7 linked regions of the Homo sapiens genome follow. The protein of the gene in region 1 purifies or fractionates together with the protein of each later gene. This does not show direct contact. Each region holds a gene or a part of one and is shown in the gene's direction. Other genes may lie near its edges. The genes, in order: SLC22A16, GBP5, MFSD8, TLCD4, SLC29A1, ATP2B2 and SLC25A46.

Region 1 (4,179 bases):
TTTACAAAAATTAGTCTTCATATAATGCAGATACTGTTGTTCTCTTCATTTTACAGATGAGGAGACTGATGGACAGAAAGTAGTTATTAGCCCAGGGTCACGCGCCTTAAAGGTGACAGAGCTGGGATTTGAACCCAAATACCATGCTCCTTTGCCTTTTACACAAGGTCCAACAAACAATCTATACAAAAGTGAGCACAGAGCAGTCAGCTCCTTGTCCAGCCTGTCCCTGAGTGGCCCATCCCTTCTCTAAGACAGCTCTGGCCACAGGGTGTGGTGTATATTTATGGAAGTAGTCTGTGAATGTGCTTCCTTTGGATCTAAGGAGTATTACCTATTGTTTGTAATGAGTCAAAAAAAAAATCAGATTTCCCATTAAACTTGTTTATGGATGTCAAACTGCCTGGGGAGCCAGTGTTTTCATTTTGAGAAATGAAAACTCTGATCTGGAAGATGTTTATATTTTCTCTTTTGAAAAGAGGCACATGAAAAATCACTCGTTCTGATGCTTTTGTTATTAACCATTATTTTCTAGTAATCTAAAAAAGGTGGACACGTAATTAGCTTTTTATGTGCTCATTAACTCATTTGGCAATCGTTGACTGAGTGTTGGTTTTGAACTAGCCACCCTGCTAGGTGCTAAGGAGCAGATGAAAGAAATAGCCTGTCTTGAGAGATGTACAGTCTGGTGGGAAGGGCAGGAGAGCAAATCACCACCAGTCCCGAAGAGAAGGGCTGGAGTGGGGAAATGCCAGGTATGGTGATTTAAAAGATACAACAGCAGTAATGATGGAATATTAAGAAACATCTTGTTTTTCAATATATAATAGCAGTAGGGCAGGCGCGGTGGCTCACACAAGTAATCCCACACTTTGGGGGGCCAGGGGTTTGGGACCAGCCTGGCCAATATGGCGACACCCCGTCTCTACTAAAAATACAAATATTAGCCGAGCGTGGTGGTGCGTGCCTGTAGTCCCAGCTACTCGGGAGGCTGAGGCAGGAGAATCGCTTGAACCCGACTGCCTGACTAGTCTTACTACCAAGCTAAGAATATATATATATATGCATGCAGTAATGAGAGCTTACATGTATTGGCTACTTACTGCAGCCAGGCGCTGTTCTAAGTGCCTTTTGCGTAATATTTAATTTCATCCTCTCAACAGTCGTTTGCGACAGATACTATTCTTTCATCCATTTTACAGAAAAGGACTCTGAGGAGCAGAGAGGTTAAGTAACTTGCCCAAAGCCACACAGGTAGCAGGTGGCAAGTACCCAGGCAATGTGGGTATGGAGATTATAAAAGGGTCAAGAACATTTCTTTTTCTTTCTTTCTTTCTTTTTTTTCTTTTTTTTTTTTTTTTTGAGATTGGGTCTCACTCTGTCACTGAGGTTGGAGTGCAGTGGTGCAATCTTGGCTCAATGCAACCTCTGCCTCCTGGGCTCAAGAGATTCTCCCACCTCAGCCTCCCAAGTAGCTGGGACCACAGGCATGTGCCCCCACACCTGGCTAATTTTTATATTTTTCATAGAGAATTTCACCATATTGCCCAGGCTGGTCTCAAACTCCTGACCTCACGTGATCCGCCAGCCTTAGCCTCCCAAAGTCTTGGGATTACAAATGTAAGCCACTGCACCCAGTCTTTGAGAAGTTTTTTTTTTAAGACGGAGTTTCACTCTTGTTGCCCAGGCTGGAGTTCAGTGGCACAATCTTGGCTCACTGCAACCTCTGCCTACTGGGTTCAAGCAGTTCTCATACCTCAGCCTCCCAAGTAGCTGGGATTACAGGCATGTGCCACCTCGCCCGGCTAATTTTGTAATTTTAGTAGAGACAGAGTTTCACCATGTTGGCCAGGCTGGTCTCGAACTCCTGACCTCGGGTGATCCACCCACCTCAAGCCTCCTGAAATGCTGGGGTTATAGGCTTGAGCCACCATGCCCAGCCCTTTGAGAGCTTTTCTTTTTGCCAAGGGAAAATAGCCAGCAGAAAGGAAAAGATCAAAAATATGTGAGAAGGAGGTTGGACGATGGATGGAGGGAGATCTCTGAGGAGGAGGTGAGAGGCAGTGGGGTCTGGAGAGTGTGAAAGGATCCGCCTGGCCTCCCTCCAGGAGGAGGGAGGGGTGGGAAAGGGGGGACTTATTTCAAAGTTTGGTTTGGGGTTTGGGGGATTGTGGGGAGCTGGTCAGGGAAGCAGGAGTGAGGAGGAGGTGGAGAGGTATGATTTGTTTCCTGCCTGACTAGGCTTACTACCAAGCTAAGAAGAAAAATTCCATTCTGTTCTGGATCTTCCATTTGATTCTATTTTGCTTTTAGACTTCCTCAGTGTTTTTCAGATCCTGACTTAGGGCTCTTCTGGGGTTTCTAGATCACTGGATATACTTGCCGTGTCTTGAGAGACCAGAAAACGTCTTTAAAATTCCTTTGGAATGTCACTTGAAATTCTGCTACTGCGTCTGGGTTAAGCTTACTCATATATTTCGTATATTTCTAAGAATTAGGTTATCAGTGCTCTGCAAAACAAAATGAAAAACTGCCTTCCCAGGTCTCGTCTGTTATGGATGTGATCTGGCATCACTTCACACTTGCTCTATGTATTTTATGATTCTCATTTTCAGAGGCTATAAACATACCAAGTGTGTAGATTTATCAGAAAAGCCACACCTTAATTTATTTTTATAGGGTCTTTCCAGCAAATATATTTTGCTAAAGGAGTTTGAATTAAGTAAGGACAGATTGTGTTTTTACGGATTGTATAGAGATTTAGCTCTGTTAATAAAAACCACCCAGCATCTTCATGATGATAAACAGAGAATAGATATGCAGACTTTAATTTTTAATGTGACCTGCATTTTTAAAAGCAAACGCCTTGGCGCTAGTCTAAAAGGCTGCCTTTTATGTGTCAAAATCTGGAAAATAAAGAAATCACACCGAACTGTATAGGAAATTATATGGATCCCTGCCCCATAAAGTAGCAATTTGTTTTCACTGCCTTTGTTTAGCTTCCCCCAAATTCCGTAGATTCTGGTTGATTGAAACCTGTTTTCATTCATTCATTCCCTATCATTTACTGAACCCTGATAGTGTACTGATTATTGGGGCAGGGACAGGGTTGACTAAGACAGTCCCTGCTTGGCATGTCCTGACCCAGGGCTCAGTTACTTGTCTTCTCCACAAGATTCTGGGGTCTGGAAAGATGGGGTAAGTGTCTTTTTTCTTTCTGACCACAGCTCCTAGGACAGCACCTTCAGGAGTAATAATGCAGGCAGTAGCTGGCAATTAAGGAGGCACTCCATGGTGGGTCATGAAGGAATGAATGAGTGAGTGATGAGATTAAACCTCGTTGATGAGGAAAAGAACTCGAAGTCCAGCACAAGTAACCAAAGATCTCACCGAGTAATCACAGTGACAACTGTTATGTCAAATTCAAATCCATTACCCTCTGAAAACAGTTAGGAAATTCTATTCTCCGAAGGGTTCGTTCCTTTCTTGATGTGTCACTTATCATTATTTTTAATTCCTTCTAGTTGTTTGTTGGGACTATGGCCCTCCTGAGTGGAGTGTTAACACTAAAGCTTCCAGAAACCCTTGGGAAACGGCTAGCAACTACTTGGGAGGAGGCTGCAAAACTGGAGTCAGAGAATGAAAGCAAGTCAAGCAAATTACTTCTCACAACTAATAATAGTGGGCTGGAAAAAACGGAAGCGATTACCCCCAGGGATTCTGGTCTTGGTGAATAAATGTGCCATGCCTGCTGTCTAGCACCTGAAATATTATTTACCCTAATGCCTTTGTATTAGAGGAATCTTATTCTCATCTCCCATATGTTGTTTGTATGTCTTTTTAATAAATTTTGTAAGAAAATTTTAAAGCAAATATGTTATAAAAGAAATAAAAACTAAGATGAAAATTCTCAGTTTTAAAAACTGCTTTCTTATTGCTGCAAAATATTTTTCAACATTTGTTTTTCTATGTAGTTGATTCTCAACCTTTCCCCACCACCCCCCTACCATGCATGCCAGAGGGAGTTCACCTATTTCTTTTTTTTCTTTTTTCTTTTTTTTTTTTTTTTGAGATGGAGTCTCGCTCTGTCGCTCAGGCTGGAGTGCAGTGGCGGGATCTCGGCTCACTGCAAGCTCCGCCTCCCGGGTTCACACCATTCTCCTGCCTCAGCCTCCCGGA
Region 2 (4,179 bases), on another chromosome or scaffold:
GGGAAGTACCAATGGTAAAGTGGAAACAATGTGCAGCTTTCAACTGGGTGGAGGCTGCTATTCTGTGGACAGTGAGATGTTTCCTTGGCACTGTCAATAGACAATCTGCGTAGAGAAATTCCAAGCTGAAAGCCAATAATGTTATAATAAAATAGAGATTCTTCAGAAGATGAAAGGAATTACCAGCATGGAAATTGTGTCATAGGCTTAAGGGCTAAAGAAGAAGCCTTTTCTTTTCTGTTCACCCTCACCAAGAGCACAACTTAAATAGGGCATTTTATAACCTGAACACAATTTATATTGGACTTAATTATTATGTGTAATATGTTTATAATCCTTTAGATCTTATAAATATGTGGTATAAGGAATGCCATATAATGTGCCAAAAATCTGAGTGCATTTAATTTAATGCTTGCTTATAGTGCTAAAGTTAAATGATCTTAATTCTTTGCAATTATATATGAAAAATGACTGATTTTTCTTAAAATATGTAACTTATATAAATATATCTGTTTGTACAGATTTTAACCATAAAAACATTTTTGGAAAACCATAAATCAGTTCCTTTGTTTGTATTTTTCTCAAAGTTAAAAGTCTATAGAGAAAGACTGAATTTCCCTAAGGAGATTAAGAATTGCTTTAAGACTAGAATTAAAACACACTTTATTACATCTTTTTATGTACTTTTTGTTACTTTGTTTTGTATATCTCCAGTAAAATTTTTTTTGTTTAAATTATAGAAACATTACACAAAGCTCTGTTTTTCTCCCTTATAAGTACTTACTCATATAAGGAATTTTCCACTTAGGTAATATGATAGGAGCTTGAATTTTTTTAGTCACCCAAAATATGATTTACTTATATACAGAAAAAAGCCGAAAAATTTTAGTGTCTGCTCTTTTTACTGTTCTTTGAAGAGCTTTAATATGAGGAATTTTTCATATCAGATAGGATGTGGTGCTACTCAGCAGTATTTCTAGATTTGAACTGAAGTTCAGAAGGTACCAGCATATTCAACTGAGCATTTGTCTAGCAATACCCTACAATTACCTTTTCAAGCTGTGCAATTTATAAAGAAAAAAATACATTTTATCATCCAAGGAAATGTTATCAGTAAAAAGAATAGCTCTATCTCCAAATTAAATATTGATATCTTTATTACCCATCTTAAAGAAATTTTTTAAAATCCTGAGACTCAGAAAATTAAGTCATTTAAGGTTTCACACCTTGTTACTGTTAACCTAGACCATGTTACAAAGTAGTTGATTTCTAGTCTAATTTAACTTTTGCTATTATATCTCCCCCACCAAAAACCAGAGAGGCATGCTGCTTTCATTAGTGATCCACAGATATTCTTCCCCACCAGCTTCCCTGGATCCCACTCATCCCCAAATACTCTGATCTCACAGGTTAGAGATCTGTCACTGGGTGCAAAAGAACAAGAAAAGGCACTGTAAGGTAAACATTGATGATTTCTTGAAACTACCAGTAAGTAGCTTATATTTTCTGACTTTCTTTGTCTTACTGTTGTGAAATCAACTGATCTAGTTTTAAATGTAATGAAAAGCAAAGCAATAGATTCTCCCCTAGAGCCTGCAGATGGAATGCAGCCTTGTTAACATCTTGATTTAAGCTTCACAGACTTCTGATTTCCAAAACTGTAAGATAATAAGCTTCTGTTGTTTTAAGCCACAAAATTAGTAATAATTTGTTATAGCAGCAATAGGAAACAAGTACAAAATCTTTATTAGTTAATACTATGAATAGTTATTCATACCAGCTAAGAGATATTTGGAATTTATTATGGATCACTTTATTATGGTCACTGTAGTAATTCACCTGTTGCTCATAAAAACCTTATAAACATTTAGTATTGTTTTATGGCAATTGTTATTTTAAACAATATTATCAATGTATGTTAGTGTTATCATTATTAAAGTTATTATTGTTAAAGCATTGAAATTAAATAAATTAAGGTCAGTACCACAGAAGGCCTTTTGAATTTAGAACCCACATTAATAACCATCTTGTGGTACTTTCTTATCTTGCTTAGTGATACGGTTTGGCTGTGTCCACTCAAATCTCATCTTGAATTATGGCTCCCATAATGCCCACGTGTTGTGGGAGGGACCAGGTGGGAGGTAATCAAATCATGGGGGTGGGTTTTCATGTGCTTTTTTCATGATAGTGAATAAGTCGCCTGAGATCTGATGGCTTCATAAAGGGCAATTCCCCTGCACATGCTCTCTTGCCTGACACCATGTAAGATGTGCCTTTGTTCCTCTTTCATCTTCTGCTGTGGTTGTGAGGCCTCCCCACCCATGTGAAACTACAAGTCCATTACATCTCTTTTCCTTTATAAATTACCCAGTCTTGAGTATTTCTTCATAGCAGTATGAAAATGGACTAATATACTTAGGAAAACATAGAAATACTGAATAATGTGTTAAAATTTAGAAGGAATTACTAAAATAATTGAAATCAAAAGCATAGATTCAAAACAATGTATAAGAATTCAGCACAAAATAAGCAGGTAAAGAAATTTCTAAAATGAAGTAGAGAAAATGTGGTAATGACTCTAGTGTATAACGATCACCAACAGAATAGAAAGTCCAAAAAATAGACTTTATAGGAATAATACAGGGTAAAGATAGACTTCTTAGTAGGTTGGGACTACTGGATGGCCATATAGGAAAAGATCAAGTTGTAACCAGACCTCACACACAATACACTAAAATAAGAAAAAGGAACCACACCCAAATTGATAAAATATAAAATGTAAAACTATGAAAATGCATTTGAAGAAATCAAGGTTATGTTCTTCATAAACCTGTAGAGGAGAGGGCCTTTCTAAATGTGACTCAAAACTCTTGAAATCTCTCTTGACCCCATGTCTCAGTCAGTTTCAACACAATCTTTGTTCCCTTTCAAAGCAATATTTTAGTTAGTTACATCCCATTCTCTGTTTTTCAAAATTATTAAATGTGACACATACTGAAGAGTACAAAAAACATAAAATGTACAATATTCAATATAAATAAATTACAAGATGAACGCACAAGTAACAACCCAGGTACATACATTCAGCATTACTAAAATTCTATAGGTGTATATGACAACTTCTGACAACCCTGCTAGAGCCAACTAATATCACAACTTTCACAACTATTTTCTAGGATTTTATTATAAACATGTGAGCTCCTAAGTAATGTAATTTTGTTTGGCCTGTTTTCAAACTTTATTTAAATGGAATTACATTGTTTGTATTCTTTTATGCCTTGCTTCATTTGTTAATAAAATCTTTATAAGATTCATCTAGTTCATTGTGTGTAGTTGTAAGCTATATATATTCTACTGTTTAAAGATAACAATTCATTCTACTATTAATACATATCTGGATTTTCAGGTTTACCTTATGAAATGTTATTAAGGACATTCTTTTTTTTTTCTGTTTTTTTTTTTTTATGAGACAGAGTCTCACTCTATCACCCAGGCTGGAGTGAAGTGGCATGATCTCGGCTCAAGGCAACTTCTGCCTCCCAGGTTCAAGCAATTCTCATGCCTCAGCCTCCCAACTAGCTGGGACTACAGGCACACACCACTATGCCTGGCTAATTTTTGCATTTTTAGTAGAGATAGCGTCTCACCATGTTGTACAGGCAGGTCTTGAACTCCTGGCCTCAGGTGATCCACCCACCTCGGCTCCCCAAAGTGCTGGGATTACAGGTATGAGCCACCGCGCCCGATCGGAACATTCTCGAACATATACACTTGTGCATGTATATATAAAATTCCCTCTGTAACACTGAAGTCTTAGAGAATGGATATCCAGCTTTTCTTATTTATTAAATTTTTATTATTTTTAATTTTTGTGGGTACATAGTAGGAGTATATGTTTACGGGGTACATGAGATGCCTTGATACAGACATGCAGTGCATAATGATCAGATGGAGAAGGGGTATCTATCTACTCAAGCATTTACTCTTTGTATTACAAACAATCCAATTATACACTTTCAGTAATTTTAAGAAGTACAATTAAATTATTATTGACTATAATCTTCCCTTTGTGCTATTAAATATTAGGTCTCATTCATTCTTTCTAACTATATTTTTTGTACTCGTTAAACATCCTCACCTCACCCCTATCACCCTGCCCCACTACACTTCCCAGACTCT
Region 3 (4,179 bases), on another chromosome or scaffold:
TGGCAAGAATATCACATGGGTTATGTTGAGAACACCCCACTACATTACATCAAAAGGTACAGGATGCCAGGACATCCCACTACTGGGAATGCCAAACATGACCACTTGTTAAGAGGGTGACTGCTATATCTTTCAATTATAAAGGTTCATGTTCCATTTTGTAATTAGTAAGCAGACACTGGGGTGACATTTGAGGGCCTTTGACTATCCTCTCCTTAACAATCTTCCAGTCAGTTGTTTTAGCATCCATTGATGATCCTTCCATTATAGCATAGAAAGTGGCCATTAAATTATTATTTTCTAATTTTATCCTTTCAATATTTAATAATTGTCATTTGTCATTAAAAGAAGAAAGATTTTGTCTGAGCTCTAAATCAGTCACTCAAACAATTTTATTATTTTTTTAGAATCAAATAATTTACTTCTTGATTCCCTAACTTAGATATATCTGGTTTTTTATTCAAATTCTAGTATATTGATTTCAAAGTATGGGCATCTAGGGTTCTGGTATTTTTCTCAGGTAAGCTACATTATTTTTATTTTTTTCTTATCTCCTTTGACTCAGAAGAGGTTTGTTTATATGGAATGACATATATAGTGTTAAACACTTTAAATATATTAGGAACTAATATGTTTGGCATATAATACATCTAAAAACATTGTTTCTCTTCTTCCTTTCCTCTTTACCACTCCCAACCATATCACGTTTGAAAAAAAAAAGTTTCTTTTTTGAAGACTAATTTGACAGTTCTAAGGCTTATTTTTAAGAAATTAATCTTGGAACATAAGAAGGCATTTTGTCTGTTCTGCATGTCTTGATTATTTGAAAAGATAATGCTCACGTTAAGGTGAACTTGTTAACTCTTTCTATTGTGTGTGTGAAAATGTAATGAGTATATAGACTCATGTGTCACCTAATGGAGGTAAGATATCTACTTAGTATACATGCCTTTGGTCCAGATCAGACGCTTATCCAAAAGATCACTTAAGTCTGGGGAGTCATGGTCTCTCTTTGGTCTGCTGATAAAATTTATCTGGTAACCCATTTAGGAGGTCCCAGGGCTGAAAATGTCTTAGGTTACGTTAAACCTTCCTGGTATCATTCCTGTTTTCTGAAGTAGGAAGCCAAAAGAGCTTCCTGCAGCAATTTAATTTGCTGTCATCAAGTAGAGCATGTTATAATGATGACAGTTATTATTTTTTAGTACTTAGTAGCTACGGGGGATCTAGTTGTAGCTAGTTTATTTGATTTATCTTGACGTAATTTATTCATTTTTACAAATTGCAACACTCTTGATTAATAAATCTGTGCATGTCAATGGTAGCAAAATAATTGCCTTGCAAAAAGTTTCCTCTTTTAAAACTATACTGTTTCCCAAATTTCTGTATACAATAATGCATATATACAATCCATGGAAATTCAAAAAAATAATGCTTATTCATAGATAAATTAGTGTAGCAGAATCAATATTGGTAAATTCTACCTCTATCACATCATTTTCATAACTAGAGAATAAAACTGTTGACACTTAAGATCCACATGTAATGAGATAAATTTATACTACTTTTTTCTTCTTTACACCTAGAGAATGGGACATTTTAGAGACTGAAGAGCATTATAAGAGCCGATGGAGATCTATTAGGATTTTATATCTTACTATGTTTCTCAGCAGTGTAGGTAAGTATTAGAAATACATAATTTTAACAATTCAGATCAGATGTCATATTTTAACTTCATTTACTTCATTTACTTTCATTGCCTCTGAAATTATCTTTATTGTGCTAAAAAATACGTGACATAAATTTACCGTGTTACCATATCTAAGTTCAATAGCCTTAAGTATATCCACATTGTTGTGCAACCAATCCCTAGAACATTTTCATCTTGCAAAAGAGAAACTCTATACCCATTAAACAACTCCCTATTTTCCCATCCCCCAAGCCCTAGCAAACTTTGTTTCTTGGAATTTGACTATTCTAGATAGCTCATATAAATGGAATTATATAGTATTTTTTTTCTTGTGATGAGATTATTTCACTCAATGTCCTCAAGTTGGTTCATGTTGCACTTGTGATAATTTCCTTTTATTTAAAGGCTGTATAGTTCATTATATGTATTCTAGGGTAGGAGAAATTTTTCCTCTATTCTCCTATGTGCTTAAGGCTTGTGAATTAAGCTGACAAAAGAAAGACTAACAGTTAAAAAAGTATACAAATTTATTTGATGTTAATATTTTTTAATGAAAAGAAACAAATAACATTAAGGAATGTACATACAAACGAAACTAGACAACTACTAAGAGTCCCTAACACTTTCATGTACTCACAAAAGTATTTCATCTTTTTTTTTTTTTTTTTTTGAGACGGAGTTTCACTCTTGTTGCCCAGGCTGGAGTGCAATGGCACGATCTCAGCTCACTGCAACCTCCACCTCCCAGATTCAAGCGATTCGCCTGCCCCAGCCTGCCAAGTATCTGGGATTACAGGCATGTGCCACCACCCCTGGCTAATTTTGTATTTTTAGTAGAGACGGGATGTCTCCATGTTGGTCAGGCTGGTCTCGAACTCCCAACCTCAGGTGATCTGCCCACCTCGGCCTCCCAAAGTGCTGCGATTACAGGCGTGAGTCACCGCCCCCAGTTAAAAATATTTCATCTTTTTTCTTTTTTTTTTTTTTTCAAGACGGAGTTTCGCACTGTCGCCCAGGCTGGAGTGCAGTGGCGCGATCTCGGCTCACTGCAAGCTCCGCCTCCCAGGTTCGCGTGATTCTCCTGCCTCAGCCTCCCGAGTAGCTGGGACTACAGACACCCGCCACCACGCTAATTGTTTTATATTTTTAGTAGAGACGGGGTTTCACTGTGTTAGCCGGGATGTCTTGATCTCCTGACCTCGTGATCTGCCAGACTCAGCCTCCCAAAGTGCTGGAATTACAGGCCTGAGCCACCGCACCTGGCCAAAAGTATTTCATCTTTACAGCCATCAGTCAATTATTTGTTCTGCTACTTCTTGAAGATGTGCAAAATTTCTTTTTAAAAAAATTTTATTATTTATTATTATTTATTCATTTTTTGAGGTGGAGTCGCCCAGGCTGGAGTGCAGTGGTGTGATCTCGGCTTACTGCAACCTCTGCCTCCTGGGTTCGAGCAATTCTTGTGCCTTAGCCTCCCGAGTAGCTGGGACTACAGGCGCACGCTATCACGCCCAGCTAATTTTTTTGTATCTTTAGTAGAGATGGGGTTTCACGGCGTTAGCCAGGATGGTCTCGATCTCGTGACCTCATGATCTGCCCGCCTCAGCCTCCCAAAGTGCTGGGATTACAGGCGTGAGCCACCCCGCCTGGCCAGTGCAAAATTTCTTAAGTTTAAATATACAGTCTTAATTATACCTGTGTCTTAATGTCCCAAGACAGATTGTAGGTAACAGAATCTCAATTGTGCCTCAAAGAATTAACAACAAAACAAAATTCAATCTATTCTCTGCATTCAGGCAGAAAGGGGGAGAGCAGAGAACCCTTCCTGCATCTGCTATTTCTCGGTTGCCTTCAGTTTGAGATAATTAATATGGCAAAACAGCAGATTTTTGGAGTAGCATACTCTGATTGCCTTCAGTATATACCACATTTTTTTTTTTTTTTTTTTTGAGACAAAGTCTCGCTCTGTCGTCCAAGCTGGAGTGCAGTGGTGTGATCTTGGCTCACTGAAACCTCCGCCTGCGGGGTTCAAGCAATTCTCTGCCTCAGCCTCCCAGGTAGCTGGGATTACAGTCACCCACCACCATGCCCGGCTAATTTTTGTATTTTTAGTAGAGATGGGGTTTCACCATCTTGGCCAGGCTGGTCTTGAACTCCTGACCTCGTGATCCACCGGCCTCAGCCTCCCAAAGTGCTAGGATTACAGCCTAGCCTGGCCTACCACATTTTGTTTAGCCATTTATCTGTCGATGGACATTTGGGTTGCTTCCACCTCTTGGCTGTTGTGAATAGTGCTGCTGTCAATATGGGTGTGCAAATATCTCTTCAAGATCCTGCTTTTAGTCCTTTTGGGTATATATCCAGAAGTGAAATTGCTGGATCATATTATGATTTTCTTTTTAATTTTTTAATTTTTTGGAAAATTGCCATACTGTTTTCCATAGCAGCCGTACCATTTTATTTACATTCTCAACAACAGTCAGGGTTCC
Region 4 (4,179 bases), on another chromosome or scaffold:
ATACTAGTACTTTCGTGTTCTTCTTTGAAATATTTATAACAAACATATTCTTTGGAAACAAAGATGGAAGAAAAAATTAGTTGTACTTTTGAGTAGCTTATACCATACAGCATTGGCCAACTTAGCCAGACCTGGGGCAGTTAGACTCTACACATCAGGGAACAAAGTGTACAGTCAGTGCATATGAATCTTTTAATGAACTTTGCATTATAATTTAGAGCCCTCCAGCATTTATTATTTTGTTATATAATTTTAAAGTAAAAATTTCTTTTTAGTTTTTTTTTTTTAAACAGAAAAGTAAATGGAGAAAGAATTAGACATCTATTGATATAGAAATCTGCTGGAGTTTTATTTTTTATTTTTATTTTATTTGTTTATTTATTTTTTTGAGACAGAGTCCCGTTCTGTCGCCCAGGCTGGAGTGCAGTGGTGAAATCTTGGCTCGCTGCAACCTCTGCCTCCCAGGTTCCAGTGATTCTCCTGCCTCAGCTTCCTGAGTAGCTGGGATTACAGGCATGCGCCACCATGCCAAGCTAATTTTTGTGTTTTTAGTAGAGACAGGGTTTCACTAGGTTGGCCAGGCTGGTCTTGAACTCCTGACCTCAGGTGATCCACCCACCTTGCCCTCCCAAAGTGCTGGGATTACAGGCATGAGCCACTGCACCCTGCCAGAGTTTTAAAAAGTTGGTTGCAATTTTTTTGTGTGTGTACAACTTATTAATCTCACAAGATTTCAAACACAAAATGGCTCTGATGACTTCTTCACGTGCTTTAGAGCATTTTATGTCCCCAAACATCACTGTGCATTTGTAAACCTCAGTGAGTCAGAGCAGCCGTGGCCTTATTTTTTGTTGTTGCTATTTAGTTGAAGTTAATACTAACCATAAAATGGATTCAGCAAGTCTCTAAAGTTTGCTATAATTATCTTTCATTGAAATTTCCTTTTAAAATTCAAGAAATTCTGTCAGTGTCTGAGTATTTATTTGAGAATGGTCATATTTGATTTGAAATTCCCTTTGAACCAAATTGTTTTGCAGGCATCTACTTTTATGATTCAGACTGTGAATTTAATAAGACTCTAGTTGTTTTTTTTTGTACTTTACAGTGATGTATCGGGTTCATACATGTCAAAGTTCTTTTCACCCAAAAAGCAAGAATTATTTCTCCACATATTTTCAAAAAATAAGCAGTATGATTATTTTGTCTTAAGACTAGCACAAAAATATTGTTCAAATGCATTATACTAGAGATACCATTACTTTAAAAAATCTTTTCTAACATATGAAGATAGATGGAATGGTAGGAAAGAGAAGGGGGTACATACGTTCTCTGATTAAATGTTGAACTATTTTCATTTCCTCTTTCCTGTGGTTAGGATAGGTAAAGGCATTTGAATGTTAGGTAGCTGCAAGTCAGAGAAATAGGAAAGGGTACAGAGAGATGGAAGCCAAGATGAAAATGAAATGAAATTGAAGAATATTTTGCATTATCTAGTCTTATCACTGCCATTCTATGACACAGGAAATACCATTTGGGAAACTGAATTTCTATTTGAAAAAGGAGTCTGGGATTATATAAAATTCATTTAGGTATTCAGTGGTGTTTTCTCTTTTTCTCAAGTTTGCTCCTGCTTCTCACTCCAGCTTTTTTTACAAAGGACTTAAGCTGTAAGGTGGAGAGTGCAAAGTAGGACAAGGAGGCTGTATTTTGAGTAAAATATGTATAAATGTCTTAAAATTCAGCTTCCAGTTTGAAACATACAGGTAAACACACATAATTCTTTCTAGTGATCAGGAAAGAGTCTCTAAACATGAGTTGAGAGTGGTCTGAGCCATCTAGTATAAAAAGAAATGGAGGAGAAAAAATCACTGGAAATGCCCATTTGAGAGACAACAGTTTAGTTAAAAGTGAGAAATTGTTGTACTGAATTGTTACTTTTTCTGAAAACGTGTATACTTACAGGTGCTACATCTTATAATGTAAAAAAATTTTCTTAATTACTTATATTCACTTTCTTACCTATCACATTGAAAGTCTTATTGTGTTGAAATACTACTAATTTTTAAATGTTTCTCTAAAATTTAGCTGAGTTATATAATTTCTGTTGGCAATATTTACACTACTTGTGATTAGTAACTTAAAATTGCTATTCTAAAATAGTCATTAATCATTTCCTTAGAGTGCTATCCCTTTATATGCACAAACATTTCTTTTCCACCCTCTTTGAAAAAAAATTGAAATATTTTATCTTGGGTAATATCTTGGAATTTCTTTTTAGATACTAAGGAATCTAAATTTTCCTTTGCTAGGAATCTGATTTTAAATAATAAAATATAAAATTTTTATTAACAGAAGTTTCTGAAACTATAGTATAGACTTTTAATACAGAATAGTGTATGAGTGAGGGCAGGGTATTTGTTTTTCCTCCTCATTACAGAGGGAGATATTTGATTGGACCAAGTAATATTTAACTTTTCTGTACTGAATCATACACCATTTCCATCAGCTGAGGGCTTAGAATGCTTTCCATTTACCACATAACATCTCAAAAGAGAAGTGAATCTGAGGCCTGAGTGTCAGAAATAAAAAGTTAGGTTTTTCAAAAGGGAGCTTTCTGACTATGGTTACCAAACAGTAAAACAAGTTTGTAAGAGAGATTATATATTTTTAAATTTTATATAATTTTTGAATAGCAATAGAGAGTGGGCTGTATGACCATTTAAATGGAGTATTTTATTTTATATCAAGGAATTTAATTTTTTTTTTTTTTTGAGACAGAGTGTCGCTCTGTTGCCCAGGCTGGAGTACAGTGGTGCAATCTCCACTCACTGAAACCTTTGCCTCCCAGGTTCAAGTGATTCTTGTGCCTCAGCCTCCCGAGTAGCTGGGATTACAGGTGTGTACCACCATACCCAGCTAATTTTTGTATTTTTGGTAGAGATGGAATTTCACCATGTTGACCAGGCTGGTCTCAAACTCCTGACCTCAGGTGACCCGCCCACCTTGGCCTCCCAAAGTGCTGGGATTACAGGTGTGAGCCACCATGCCCGGCCAAGGAATTTACATTTTTATCCTGTGCTCAAGGTGTGCTTGGCATGAAAATTATAGACTTGTAAACCAGATAAATTGGATTAATTATTCACATTTCAAAATGATTCTTAGGTATTATAAATGATACTTGGTCAATGCCTTTAAATTGGTGAGAATCTTTGCTTATTTAAAATATGGCTTGATTTAGCATGATACATCTATTTTGTAACACACTATTAGGTCAAGTATATTGGTTTCTAAAGTTACAATGAAATTTTCTGATACCAAACCTAATATTAGTTGATATATTTTACTTTTAAAGATTTGGGATCATATTGTAGAGAAAAATTTATTGCACACCAGTAATTTTTAGAGAGAAAACTTTGCTGTACCTCTCATTTTTTATCCTAATGAAGTTTCATTACTTGTGAACTTCTCAATAAAGATGTGAGAAATCTGAAATTGTTGGGTAAAAAAACTTTATTGTATGGATGAATACACAGTATCCTAAGTATAGTTCTCTAAGTAACATAGAGCTTGGGAATTAGTCACATCATTAAATTTATTAACAAGATATATTCATAGAAACTTATGGTTTTTATGTTAAACTTATTCCTTCTATACAAGAAAACTTGACCTGGATCTTGAGAACATTGTGCTTTCACTTGGGTATTTCTTTTAAAAACAAATTTTCCGTATACATTTATGGTCCTCAATTTTTCTATTTAGAAATGTTTTCATAATAATGATAAAGAGGGACTAATAATAGCTACCCTTGTTTTCTTACAAATTTGTTACAAGAATCAAGTGCAATAGTGCATGTCAACGTACTTTAAAAACTGAAGCCTCCCAAGATAATAAATCTTCATATCATGATCCATTCGAATTGTTTTAAGGATATGGAGTTTGTTAAAGCCAGTAGATCTGGAAGTCATTCCCAGCTGATTGGAGCAGGAAACTTATCCTGCATTGATGCTGTTGGGGCTGGAGCTTGGAGCCAAGGGTAGTGGCCTTGCCAGTTGCCATCTGGCTGCACAAAAGTCTGTCAGCTGCATCATCATGTATGCATTTATCTGTCTTAGAACTTTTAACCAATAAGTGATTCACCAGTTCTCTAGCAGGAAATTGTAGGCCTTGGTATCTTCCTCC
Region 5 (4,179 bases), about 66 Mb from region 1:
AATGGGGAGCAGGAGAGGGACGCTGAGGCAGAAGGATAGGTGCTTTGGGATCCACCCCTCCAATCTTCTTTTCAAGGTCACTCTTAGAAAGGGGAAGCGGACAGGAGCCTGTGACAGAGAGGAACTAAGGGAGGACTAGGTGACCCTGGGGTCGGGAGGGGGGAGGGGGAAGGGCTGTGCCCCCACATCCATTATGAAATATTTTCTTGGAAAACCGGCCAGCAACTAGGAAGCCCCTGGGCAGTGGCTGGAAAGAAAGGTTAAGGTGCCAACAGCAGAGAGACTGGAATCTGGGTTGCCTTCAGGAGAGGACAGCCCCACTCTAGCCATGAATCCAGGGGCTCCCCAGGGAGGGTGGAGAGACCAGACTTGCAGAGAGGGGCCTGGGGAGCCTCTGGTTTGACCTCAGTCATCATCGATGTTGTCGCAGCTGCTGCAGATCTGCCTGTTCCGTGTCCTTCCTCCTCCTCCCCCGACCTCTTTGCTGTGTCTCCTCCATTTGTCTCCCTCCTTCCCTTGTCATCACTGTCCCTGACCCCTCTCGTCCTCTTGCCTGCCTTCTTTGACTGTCTTTCCCTCCCTCCCATCATCTTTCCTCCTCCTTCCCTCCTGCTCTCCACCCTCCTGTTTCCCAGCTTATAAACTGCTTCGGCTGCTGGATAAAAATAGCGGTGGCAGCGGCCAGGCCGGGAGCCAGGTAGAGTCTGAGCAGGCAGGGGGGCCGCGCAGGACTGGCCTGCTGGGCCAGGGGGCTGGGTGGGGGTCAAGTTGAGTCGTCCTGAGGGGCAGGGTGCAGAGGGGGTCTTACTGGACTCCTCCACTGGCCTGTTCTGTCAGCCCTGCCCCCTCTCCCCCTAAGAGCCTGAGGAGGCCTATGGCAGGGCCAAGACAGGGCCTCACACTGTTCCTGCCCCCAGCAGGCCCCTGAGGGAGGGAGCTGTCAGCCAGGGAAAACCGAGAACACCATCACCATGACAACCAGTCACCAGCCTCAGGACAGGTAAGGGGTAAGGGGCTGGGCTGTGGATCCAGGGAATGGGTTTTCAGGGAGCTGGGTGTGGTGTCCTTTGGAATTGGGGGTTGCCATTGCTGGCTGGCCTTCCAGCCAGGTAGCTATGAGTCAGGTCTGCATCAGGGGTGGGGACCCCGTGTGCCTTGGCTGGGTGCTGGCTGGGGTGTCTGCGGGAAGGGCAGGGTGCGTGGGCAGCAGTCCTTCCCTGGCCTGTCTGTGTTTCCACTGTTGCTCTCCAGCCAGTTAGCGGCTTTCGGCTCCTCCCGCCACCACTGTGGGGAGATACTTGGCTGCACCCCTCCTTCCAATGCACATCTGGCAGAACTGCCCTGGGGCCTCTGCCTTAGATGACCTGGCCCACCCTGGTTCTTGATCTGATCTTCCTCTCAATTCCCTGCCTCTGGAGCCTGTGAACTCCCAGTCAAGTTAGACTTGCAGTTATGACTGTGAATATGTATTTTGGAAGAAGAGGCTGTAGCTTAATTCAATTTCTCAAAGGGATCTGGGACCCAAGAAGGCTGAGGAAGTGATCCCTGAGATCCAAAGCTCCTTCAAAGCGTCAGGCTCTGTCCTGCCCTCCAACTCAGGCCCCAGAAACCCATCACGTCTGCCCTACCCACCCCATCTCCCTCCTGTGCCAAAGGCTATGAAACTAGGCCACTTTTGCCTGTGGGGGCTTTGAGCATGTAGCTTAATCTCTCTGGGACTGTTTTTCCACCTGTAAAATAAGCTAAAAGTATCTACTTCCCAGGAAGTGGATCTAGAAGTAAGGGAATTTAAGGAGGCATGGCAATAAGTCCAGGCCCCAGGTTGCTTCCCTGCCTCCTGTGCTCCATTCCCAGGCTGCCTGCCCATTCTGTCCCCACCTCCGCTCTCCTGTGGGCAGTTCCCTGAAGGCCTCGCCGGCTCCATTTGCCTTATTGCACAGCTCAGTCATTTCCCAGCGTACTCCCCCCAACCCCGATCCTCTGTCCTATGTGACTTTGGGAGTTTTTCCTTCTGCTCTGGGCCTCCGAACCAAGCCTTTAGCTTCTCCAAGGGAAGCATGTATGTGAGGGGGTTGGGGGGGCTGCAGTTGCATTAACTCGGACCTGCTCACGTGGTGTGCTCACCACGCCATCCCTGTATGAGGCCTGCCAGCGGTCCAGGCTCCTGCACTCTGGCCAGGCCTGTCTTCTCACTGCCTTGGGCTTTATCCCTGCCATCTCTGAAGAGAGCTGGTGTTGGCTCTGGGGAGGGTGTGCAAACCCAACTGGAGATCTACATGGGCCGGGCTGGGGTTACTCAGCTTTCAGGCAAGGCCTATCTGGGAGAAGCTGGCGTGACCCGGAAGGGCCTTGAGGTATAGGGCTTGGGGCATTGCCCTGGCCAAAGGTGGACAGTCCTTATTTACACCCTGAGGCCCAGATGGCCTCCAGTGGCCCCATACCTCCTGGCCTGCCCTGGGTGGTATGAACTACAAAGTTCTATTTGGCCAGGAAGAAAATGGCTCTAAGGCCCTCTCTTCACAGCGGCCCTGAGGCACCCTGCCCACCTGCCCTGTAGGTCCAGAATAGTATGGGAGTTTCTTAACTTCAGAATCCTCTCTGGGGAGTAACACAGTCCCTGACCAGACAGCATAATTACTTCCAGCCTGCCTGGTGGGAGTGGAAGACACTTGCTGCTTGCTTTCTCACTCATCCACCCACCCCCTGCCCTTCGGCAGGATTTCCAAAACCATCTCCGGATGTGTGGGTCACACTGGTTCCCAGCCTGCAGAGTCCCCCGAGCCTTCCAGGGCTGATAACCATGGTCCTGTCAGCCATGCCATTCAGTCCTATGACCCTGACCCCATCCCCACCCCAAATTCCAACGAGCAATGTACCCTTTTCTCCCCCCACACCCATAAGAGGACACATGCAAACGGACACAAACACAGACGCCCTGTGCCCTGGGACCTAGAGAGACTGACAACGGACAGGGGCTTTCCTGGGGCTCATTGTGGAGTGGGGCAGGATGGTGCGTCATTTGGCCCATCTTTCCTCCTCCATTGCAGATACAAAGCTGTCTGGCTTATCTTCTTCATGCTGGGTCTGGGAACGCTGCTCCCGTGGAATTTTTTCATGACGGCCACTCAGGTGAGGCTGGAGGGACTGGGCTCCATGGGGCAGTGCCCACTGTGCTTGCAGGATCTGACTCTGTGCTGGTAGGCACAGGGAAAGAGATTTCAACACTCCTCTCTGCAACCCCTGCAGTATTTCACAAACCGCCTGGACATGTCCCAGAATGTGTCCTTGGTCACTGCTGAACTGAGCAAGGACGCCCAGGCGTCAGCCGCCCCTGCAGCACCCTTGCCTGAGCGGAACTCTCTCAGTGCCATCTTCAACAATGTCATGACCCTATGTGCCATGCTGCCCCTGCTGTTATTCACCTACCTCAACTCCTTCCTGCATCAGAGGTGAGTGCCCACCCCCTCCCCAGCCCCCAGCCTGACCCTCACTGTGTCCTGCACCCCCTTGGCTGAGCCCCAGCTTTGCCCACTTGTCTCTGCCACCCTTGGCCTCTCCCGGCAGGATCCCCCAGTCCGTACGGATCCTGGGCAGCCTGGTGGCCATCCTGCTGGTGTTTCTGATCACTGCCATCCTGGTGAAGGTGCAGCTGGATGCTCTGCCCTTCTTTGTCATCACCATGATCAAGATCGTGCTCATTAATTGTAAGCTGGGCCAGGAGGGGGCCTATGGGAGGAGGCATGCCCAACTACCCCCACTCTTTTTTCAGACCCAGCGTTAGCCAGAGAGAAGCCCAGCCTCCGCCTGGAGGGAGTGGATGCTGTGAGCAGCTGGGATTCAGAGGCCTGAGTGGGCCTGGACCAGGGCTGGGAGGGGGCAGAGAGAAGGGCAGCTCAGCCTCAAGGCTCACCAAGAGTAAAGTAGGAATGACAGGGATCTGTCTTCTTGGGCACCCCCAACCACCAGCCCTAGCTCCCCTGCTCATGCCCGCCCTGTTTCCCCAGCATTTGGTGCCATCCTGCAGGGCAGCCTGTTTGGTCTGGCTGGCCTTCTGCCTGCCAGCTACACGGCCCCCATCATGAGTGGCCAGGGCCTAGCAGGCTTCTTTGCCTCCGTGGCCATGATCTGCGCTATTGCCAGTAAGTCCGGCTATCTACCTGCCCAGTGCCCTGGTGTGGT
Region 6 (4,179 bases), on another chromosome or scaffold:
GGAGAATAGGGGCAGCAGCACTGACTTTATGGGGTAATTGCCAAGTACCGAAATGTTCATCATAATAGTACTAATCGCTAAAATGTGTCCGCAAGCACTTTACAAATGCTTTTTGTTTTCCCATGTAATGCGTGGGAGGGGAATTGCTTATTCAGTCATGTGCGTTCGGTTGTGTGTGGTTGAACCAGTGACTTCGCCTCAGTTTGCTCCTCCGTAAACCAAGGGTTAGCTGAGCACCCATCTTCCCGGTTGTCACGTGAGGCAAACAGGATCCAAGTACAGGGCTTGGCCCGGGTGTGGTCCAGGTAGAGGCTCAGCGGATGTTTTCTTGCCTGTAAGATGGGATAGTGGTAGTATTATGATGATGCTATTATTTGTTGTATGAGGATTTGGTGAAGTAATGCAAAGGAAGCACTTGGCTCAGGGCCTCGCCAGAAATTGATGGAAAGTGGCCTCCTTTGTGGCATCAGAAAGATTTGAGTATAAATCCTAATGCCAGTGTTTACTACTGTGTGACCTTGGGCAGGTAGCTTTGCTTCTCTGAGCTTGACATCCTGATATGCAAAGTGGAGTGGGAAAAACCTGCCTCACAAGATTGTGCCACGAGATGATGGGTAGGTAATGTCTCAAATGGAACCCTCATCATGCCAGGCATTCGAAATATGTTGAGCTTCTGCCCTGCTTGTGGGCATCTTAAAGATGTCCCCAGAAGGGGCACATCCTAGTCCAAGGAGGGTGGATTTGATTTGGGAAAATTGGGAGCAGTCGTGCCATAGTGGAGCATATGGGATTGGTGGAGCCTATGGGAGAAGCAGTGAATGGATGACACCGTTTGGGGTCCAAGCACCATGTAGCTTTGAAGGAAGAAAGCAGGTCTCTGCAAGCTTCTGTGCTGCCTCTGAAGGCAGTTTCCTATAAAGTGGTGCCTTTCCTGTGCCGGCTGGGCTACTCTACCGGGCCATGTCTGGCTGCCCCGGGACCATTTTGTGGGAGCCATGGGGGCGTCATCTGGATGAACTCATTCTAGCCCAGCTCTGTCAAACACCTGCCTTGCAGGCCCAAGGGAGCTGTGGAGGCAGTGGGCGGGGAATGCTGTGGCAGCCATTTGGGGTGCCTCCTGCATGCCTGAGGCATCCACGCTGAGTGAGGCCCCCAGGCTCATCCGGAGCAGAGGGTGCTGGCCTCCAGCTCACTGATCCTTCTGAAGTTTTTTGATCTGTGCCCATGGGCAGGGCACGCCATCCTACGTGGGCCTGACTTAGCGTTGATGTAGCGCAGTAGTTGAGGACAACATCTGGGCCCAGGCTGCTTGGGGTCACATCCAATGCCTGGCCGCTGACCAGCTGCATGTCCTTAATCTCCAAGCCTCCGTTCCCTCCACTGTCAAATGGAGATGACAACACTGCCTGCCTCATCAGGCCGTTGTGTCGGAGACTGAACTGTGCGGATTCCAAGATATACATTTTGACATTTCTGAAGCCAGGTTGTGCCTGACAACTGGTGTTACACCACAGTGGAACCAGCCATGCCTTTTATTTCTTAAATATACGTAAAGTAGTGATACAGGTTAGAGTCAAGAAAATATGATAAATAAGATCAGTTTTATAAGGGGCTCAGAACAGAGCCACCAGGCTGGTGGGAAGAAGCCAGGATTGCCACCTGCCTCCCCAGCTCAGTTGCGGTGAGTCCCTCACTGGGTCCTTTGTGTCCACTCTGAAACAATCAGCAAAAGAACACCTGCTTGCCGGAGCAGCTGTGAGAAGTCGGCAAACTTTTGTGTGTATTACGTGACCAGCAGAGTCCCCATATGCAGTAGGTGCTTAATAAATGGCCGTGCAAAACAAACAGCAAAGACCGTAGTACAAGGAGGAATTTAAAGCATAGACTCTGGGATTCTAATTCCTGCTCCACCATTTCCATGCTGTGTGACCCAGCACAAGTTTCTTAATTTCTCTGTGCCTTAGTCCCACCATCTGTAAAATGGGGATAACAAAAGTGTCCAATTCATAGGATTGTTGTGAGGATTAAGTAAAATTAAAGTGCTTAGGACAGCCCTTGGCAGAAGTGTAAGCAATTATTATTTGATGAACTTTAATGAGTCTCTTCTAGTTCAATAAATGATACTAAAATAAACACTAGGCTCAATAAAATAATAGCAGTTGAGGCTGCACTTGCTTTATAGCTGAGAAAACCAAGGGCCAAGAGGCATGCTGGTTTGCCCAGGATCACACAGCCAGCTCCCAGCAGACTGGAACCACAGCCCAATGTCCAGGCACCAGCCCAATGCTGCCTCTTTGCCCATGTTGGTTCAGGACTCTTTCTCTTATGGAGAAAGCAGTTCTTGCCATGGAGAGGAGGGTTTCTAGAAGAAGCCACCAGCAGATACATCACCAGTGCTTCAGGGATCCACAGGGTAATTAGGGCCCTCATTAGAAGTCGTTTCTGTCTTCCCTCAATTTTCTGCCTGACCACCACAAACAGTGGAAGGGGCCTAACTGGGATGCCCACCCTGCCCACAGCTGCCCAAGGTCAGCAGAGCCTGCCAACCATCCTGCAAGCCCACCAGCCAGCACTCTCCTGGCCTCCAAGTGGCTTCTGCAGAGTTGACACAGCAAAATTCCCTCCTGGAGACAGCAAAAGCCGTGGCTGGCCCGTTGGTCCAGCCACCAGACAGGCTAGGGCCACAAAGTGGATTGGAGTTGGGGGGAGGACAAAGACCTGGGTGCAGCCAGCCATGACAAGCACTTCAAGTGACCTTGGACAAGTCACAGTCTCTTTCTGAGCATCAGTTTCCCATCTTTGAAACAAGCCTTTTGGAGCCAGATGGGCCCCCTGAGACTTTAAATGTCTAAAATTCGAAGCTGCCTGGACATTGCTGATGTCCAGGTCACGGGGGAAGGGGCGGGGTTGGAGGGGTGGAGCTAGTGTCTGCGTGTGGAGTGCAATGTGTGTGGATCTTGGGTTGGACTCACTAGGAGCAAGCATGAGACAGCGCTCAGGAGAAAGGGGCTGAAAGGAAACAAGGTAGGGAGAGAAAGAGATAAACAAGCGTGTGGCCTCAGCTGATCCCTTGGGGGATGTGGGGCATGAACTGCGCCCCAGGTTTGGCTCTGCCTTGAAGCAAAAAAGCTGGCCTTTCATACCCCATATCAGATAGTTATTGGCCACGGCTGCCTTCTGAGTGGGATGCTGTGTGCAATTGCCCGGGCAGGAGCTCCTGTTCTTCCCAGGGCAAGCCTGCAAAGAAGGGGCAGCCGGGAGCTCTAGCTCCCAGCAGCTGGGGTGTGGAAGCTGCAGACCGGTAAGGAGGACTAGGGTGGGCACCAACAGTGTCCACTCTGTTATGTGGATTTGGGATGCAAAGGTTGCTGGGTGCCAGTCTCTTCCTAGCAACTATCTGAAGGCAGCAGATTAAGAGCTCTTTAGGCCACTTCTAAATTTATCAACTTACATGACTCACTTCAGATTAAAATGAAGCCCTTCTCCCCATCCCACCCCCAGCCAATTTCAGATTTCTGAGCTCAGAGCATCCTGAAGAGGGCATAGAATGCAAATCAATAAAACCAGTATTAGCTAAGTATTTGGTGTGGACCAGGCTGTTTGTCGGGCTCCTTGCTGAGCTCAGAGATGAATCAGCTCCAGAAACAACTCCTGCTGGGAGGCGGAGGCAGCCCCAGGTAGAAGGTGGTATACGACTGCGGGTGCCCTGCCTGGGGGCTAGGCCATGAATAACTTCCAGGACCAAGACTCAGCCTCACCACCACAGTATTTAGAGCTTCCAGAGCCTCAGTTTCCTTATCTACAAAATGGGGTCAGTGTGGTGAAGAGTATGTGGCCTGGGCCACTCCTGCACTCAGGGAGTAGCAATAAAATTAAGCGAGACCTGGCACTGGGACCCAGGGCTGTTTCTAGGCACTTCTCTGCCCTCTCAGAGGCCTGAGTCTGCCCCATGACCTCAGGGGAAGGAAATTCTGAGCTGAGTGGAGACATCAGCTTCCCTGGCCCTGGGAACGTCTACAGTGGGCTTCACTACAGCCCCCGGGTAACCTGTCATAACCAAGACAGCTCTCGTTTAGCGAGCAATTTCGATGCTAGGGGCTCCGTGTGCAAAAGTTTCCTTTACTCTCACCACTGCGACTGGATCCATTTACAGATGAGCAACATGGTCTCAGAGATGTG
Region 7 (4,179 bases), on another chromosome or scaffold:
TTCTTTTTTTAATATATAGATGTTCTGATCAAGATATATTCAAATGGCAGTATAAAATAAATGGAGTTGTATAGACAGATTTATGGAGATCTATTGTAATAATCTAGGCGAGGCTGAGAAGGTTCTGAACTGTGGAACAGAACAGAAAGGGATGAGCTGGCTAGACATTTCTGAAGTATAGTCGATGGTCATTATGTTAGCTTGGTAATTGGAGATAGGAGAGAATGAGTTGTCAGTAGTGACTGAGATTTCTAGATTGGAAAATGTTAACCAAGATGGAGAATTCAAGAAGAAGAAAAAGTTGGAGTAGGGAAGAAGATAAAGAATTTATCTTTCAATAAATGAAGTTTGAGATTCTTGCAAGACATTGAGGGAGAGGGACATGTCTCATATTTGGTTGGAACCATGGATCAGAGTAAAAAAAAAAAAATAGAAAATTGAAGCACAGGGAGAGCTTTGGGTATTGTGGCATAAAAGTAGCAGCTGAAGCTTAGGATAGATGAAATCACCTAAGGAGAAAGCATAGATTAAATGAATAAAATGGACCAAGGACAGAATCCTAGGCATACATGTGTGCCGTGTGTGTGTGGGAGCGGTGGGAAGGGGGGTAGTTGGGGGAGATAATGAGAGAAATTAGAGAGGGCCTCAGACAAATTGGAAATAGCATAAGATGTAGGACAATCATGTTCTAGAAACCAAAAATGGGAGAATTAGAAGTGTAGATACATTTGAGAGAGAGGGTAGAGAAATTAGGGAAATTTGCTTTTGGGTCTCTCTTTTCTCTGTGAAGCAGGATACAGGGTTATTTGGTGAAAAAATGATAAGCATTGGGGTTGTAGTAGAAAAGCATGAGAGGAATGATACACATTTGGGACAGTCACAATGATGGGTAACAAAGGAATCTTACAAAGAGTATATGAAAGGAATGTTAATAGGTAATATTGGAAATTAGAAATTTTTAAGGTGCTATTTGGCATTACTCTGATTTTCTATATCAGCACTATATTTTTGTATATCATCCTATCGATAATGTTAAAGGCTTTGGAATGGTTTGTTAATCCAAATTTATTCTCTGGCAAGGTGAATTTTTTGCATTGTTAAAGAAGTGAGATAGTTGAAGGCATAGCTACTAGTGTAACGCATATGCCCAATGTTGGGATTTAGTCCTTACAGGGAAGGAAATGAAAGCAAGAGAAACTGATAGTAAGCTTTTTTCCAATGTGATTGCTTTTGAAGGACCTCGTAGTCTTGAAGTGCCTTAAATAAACTTTGCTAAAACGTTTGAAACAAAACAAAGATTAGAAAGGTCAGCAACATTTGGGCAGCTCAGAGTTTCTTGTTTTATTCTTTAAAAATCTGTATTTCGTTGTTTGGCTAACTATTCACTTTATTGCTTTTATATCACTAGATAAGATCCCAAGTTAGTACTTATAGTCAAATATTCTTGAAATTCTTTAACAAACAATTCTGTAAAAAAATAACAAAATGCAGGAAATTCCATTTGGTAGAGTGAAAAAAATTCAATGCAGTTGTTCCTCATATCTGTAGGGGATTGATTCCAGGACCCCCAGTGGATACCAAAATCCAGAGATGCTTAAGTCCCTTTTATAAAATGGTGTTGTATTTGCATACAACCTGTACATAACCTCCTGTATACTTTAAATCATTTCTTGATTCCTTGTAATACCAAATACAATGTAAATGCTATGTAAATAGTTGTTATTCTATATTGTTTAGGGAATAATGACAAGAAAGAAAAAAACTCTGTACACATTCAGTACAGATGCAACTATCCCTTTTTTAAATAAATATTGTAAATCCGTAGTTGCCTGAATCCATGTATGTGGAACCCATGGATATGGAGGGTTGACTATATTTGCAACCAGAACACTATTGGTTCAGGTCCTGGCTATTCCACTTTTTATTTCTGGGACCTTATGCAAGTAATGTTGCCTCTCTAAAGCAGAGATGAAGGAATAACATTAATTTCAGGCTACAGGGAAGAAAAAAGAAAAATAGGAATGGGAAGGCATAGGACTTTATAAAATTTTATCATCTAACTTTCTTACTCAGTAGACAGACATGTCAACTGAGTGGGAATATATTTTCATCATTTTGAATCTTTCCAAAGAAGACAAAATAGTAACCTCTATTGCATTGTTCTACTTGGATAATTTTGGTGATAAGGCCCACTCATTAATTCATTCATTTACTTGGCTAACATTTCCTGAGTACTTACTATGTGCCAGGTTCTGTGCTAAAAACCGGGTTTACAGTGAGGAAAATAAACAAAAGGTAACTGTTGCCAGGAAGCTCAGAATCTAATAAAAGTACATTCACTAAGAACAATAATTCCATTAATGAATAATTGCAAATTGAAATTTGTTTTCTGAAGCAAAAGAATATAGTTCCATGAAAGTATTAAAGGGCTAGAAACAGTGTCCCTAGTAACATGACACTTAAGGTAGATCAGAGTGGTAATTAGGAGGTACATACCAGTTTGTACAAAAATGCTGTTGCAGTGGGGAGCCTAGAGAATTCAGGTGTAACTGAGAGAAGCCTCACATGGCTGGAGCTCTGGCCAAGGGTAAGGGTACAGAGCAGGTGGGAGCCAGAACATGTGTGGCCCTGTAGGCCATTTTAAGAATATTGAAGAGGTTCAGTAAGGTCAGTGACATCAGATTTGTTTTCAAAGGGTCATTGTAACTGTAGATGAAAAGGTTGTATGAGGACCAAAGTGAATAAAAGGAGACATCTTAGTATTCTATTACAATAATAAAGGTAAGAAAAGATAGTGGCTAAGATCAGGGTGGTATCTTTTGAGATAGAGGTAAGTGGACAGTTTTGAAATATACTTAGGTCAAACTGAGGGAATTTGGTGATGCTTTAGGAATGGTAGATCAAAGAGAAGGCAGTATGAAGAATGACTTCTTGTATTTGGGCTTGTGTAACTAGTTGTCAAATGAAGCTGTTTTTTTGAAGTATAGTGTGAATATCTTTTAAAAAATTATTTATTCTTCTTTGGGCAGATTTGACCTTTCCTATTAATGGGAAGAAGGCAGAGTTTGTTTCTGTATCCTATTAATGGGAAGAAGGAGCAAACAAGGTCACAAAACATTAACAGCAGTTCACAGAAGCTACTACATGAGGAGGATGAGCTCTGAGGTCTCCTAGCCTGGGGTTTTTTAATTGCGTAACATTTACTAGGTAGAACAGGGGAGATAGTACAGATTTGCCAATATTTAGGGGTTTTTAAATACAGTTTATGATCAAATCAAAGAGAAAAACAGCAGATCTCTAGTGTTCATTAAGTCAGCAAATTTATAATTTCTCAGTAGTATTACTTTTTAACAAATTATATATTAGCCAGGATCGTCATGTGTGATCTCTTTAGCAGTAGATACTGCTAAACCCTTCCCTGTTCTCTCTCCCAGTTGCAGTGAGTTAAACCATGTGTCGTTCTACCCCCACAGTACCCTTTACTTAATTTACATGTGGCTTTTTTCAGACTGTTAACGCGAGGTAGGAGTTCCTGTAACCAAGGCTACCTGTGTGGTTCAGTCTCTCACAAAACCCATTTGGTTCAACTCCAACTTAGTTTTGACTCATCACACATCTGTGGTTATACCACTGTAAACATCTTGTAGTTTTCCTCCAACGGTTCCCTCCGAATTTGCTTATTTTAAACACACGTTATTTTAAACACAATGAAATCTTCCTCAAATTCAATAGATTTCCTTTCTGATTAATAGTTCCTGAGTAGGGAACACTGAAAGAGTTTAAGTAGAAAAGAAAGATTTTAAGTTGGACTTTAGTACAAGTGCATTTTCAGATCTTTTATCATATCCAGATGGAGTTGTCTGTAGGCACATGATATGGGGCTGGCATATAAAGAATTCTTAACTGAAGGTAAATTAATTTGGGAGATTTTGAAGCTCTAACCCTAGATATGAGCGTCGCTAGGGAAGAAGGATACACTATGGTAGAAGAATAGAGTCTGAACCTTAGGAACTCCAACCAAGGGGTGGCTGGGTTAAGAAAGGTGGTCTTGAAAAGGAGTCAGGAGAGACCAGAAGGCAGGATAAAAACCAACAGAATGGGCTAGTGGAGCACAGGGGCAAAGAGTGCTTCAAGGAGAGAAGAGGCTCTGATGGCTGCTGAAATGTCAAATAAGGTAGA

What was found.
Region 2: the proteins of SLC22A16 (region 1) and GBP5 purify together in Homo sapiens (affinity purification with mass spectrometry; 2 studies listed by BioGRID and IntAct, with this or other methods). This does not show direct contact.
Region 3: the proteins of SLC22A16 (region 1) and MFSD8 purify together in Homo sapiens (affinity purification with mass spectrometry; 2 studies listed by BioGRID and IntAct, with this or other methods). This does not show direct contact.
Region 4: the proteins of SLC22A16 (region 1) and TLCD4 purify together in Homo sapiens (affinity purification with mass spectrometry; 2 studies listed by BioGRID and IntAct, with this or other methods). This does not show direct contact.
Region 5: the proteins of SLC22A16 (region 1) and SLC29A1 purify together in Homo sapiens (affinity purification with mass spectrometry; 2 studies listed by BioGRID and IntAct, with this or other methods). This does not show direct contact.
Region 6: the proteins of SLC22A16 (region 1) and ATP2B2 purify together in Homo sapiens (affinity purification with mass spectrometry; 2 studies listed by BioGRID and IntAct, with this or other methods). This does not show direct contact.
Region 7: the proteins of SLC22A16 (region 1) and SLC25A46 purify together in Homo sapiens (affinity purification with mass spectrometry; 2 studies listed by BioGRID and IntAct, with this or other methods). This does not show direct contact.

What each region holds. Positions count from the first base shown.
Region 1 is NC_000006.12:110,424,431-110,428,609, reverse strand, and holds the end of SLC22A16 (solute carrier family 22 member 16), read left to right. Parts: intron 1-3,227; coding exon of another isoform or gene 3,228-3,254; exon of another isoform or gene 3,255-3,524; coding exon 3,525-3,737; 3' UTR 3,738-3,923; downstream 3,924-4,179. UniProt on the Homo sapiens protein: Facilitative organic cation transporter that mediates the transport of carnitine as well as the polyamine spermidine. Mediates the partially Na(+)-dependent bidirectional transport of carnitine.
Region 2 is NC_000001.11:89,255,328-89,259,506, reverse strand, and holds the end of GBP5 (guanylate-binding protein 5), read left to right. Parts: 3' UTR 1-3,318; downstream 3,319-4,179.
Region 3 is NC_000004.12:127,955,000-127,959,178, reverse strand, and holds part of MFSD8 (major facilitator superfamily domain-containing protein 8), read left to right. Parts: intron 1-1,586; coding exon 1,587-1,678; intron 1,679-4,179. UniProt on the Homo sapiens protein: Outward-rectifying chloride channel involved in endolysosomal chloride homeostasis, membrane fusion and function. Conducts chloride currents up to hundreds of picoamperes.
Region 4 is NC_000001.11:95,144,321-95,148,499, forward strand, and holds part of TLCD4 (TLC domain-containing protein 4), read left to right. Parts: intron 1-4,179.
Region 5 is NC_000006.12:44,226,343-44,230,521, forward strand, and holds part of SLC29A1 (equilibrative nucleoside transporter 1), read left to right. Parts: intron 1-667; exon of another isoform or gene 668-697; intron 698-917; coding exon of another isoform or gene 918-971; coding exon 972-1,000; intron 1,001-3,047; coding exon 3,048-3,129; intron 3,130-3,246; coding exon 3,247-3,449; intron 3,450-3,564; coding exon 3,565-3,704; intron 3,705-4,004; coding exon 4,005-4,139; intron 4,140-4,179. UniProt on the Homo sapiens protein: Uniporter involved in the facilitative transport of nucleosides and nucleobases, and contributes to maintaining their cellular homeostasis. Functions as a Na(+)-independent transporter.
Region 6 is NC_000003.12:10,495,407-10,499,585, reverse strand, and holds part of ATP2B2 (plasma membrane calcium-transporting ATPase 2), read left to right. Parts: intron 1-4,179. UniProt on the Homo sapiens protein: ATP-driven Ca(2+) ion pump involved in the maintenance of basal intracellular Ca(2+) levels in specialized cells of cerebellar circuit and vestibular and cochlear systems.
Region 7 is NC_000005.10:110,748,914-110,753,092, forward strand, and holds part of SLC25A46 (mitochondrial outer membrane protein SLC25A46), read left to right. Parts: intron 1-4,179. UniProt on the Homo sapiens protein: Transmembrane protein of the mitochondrial outer membrane that controls mitochondrial organization.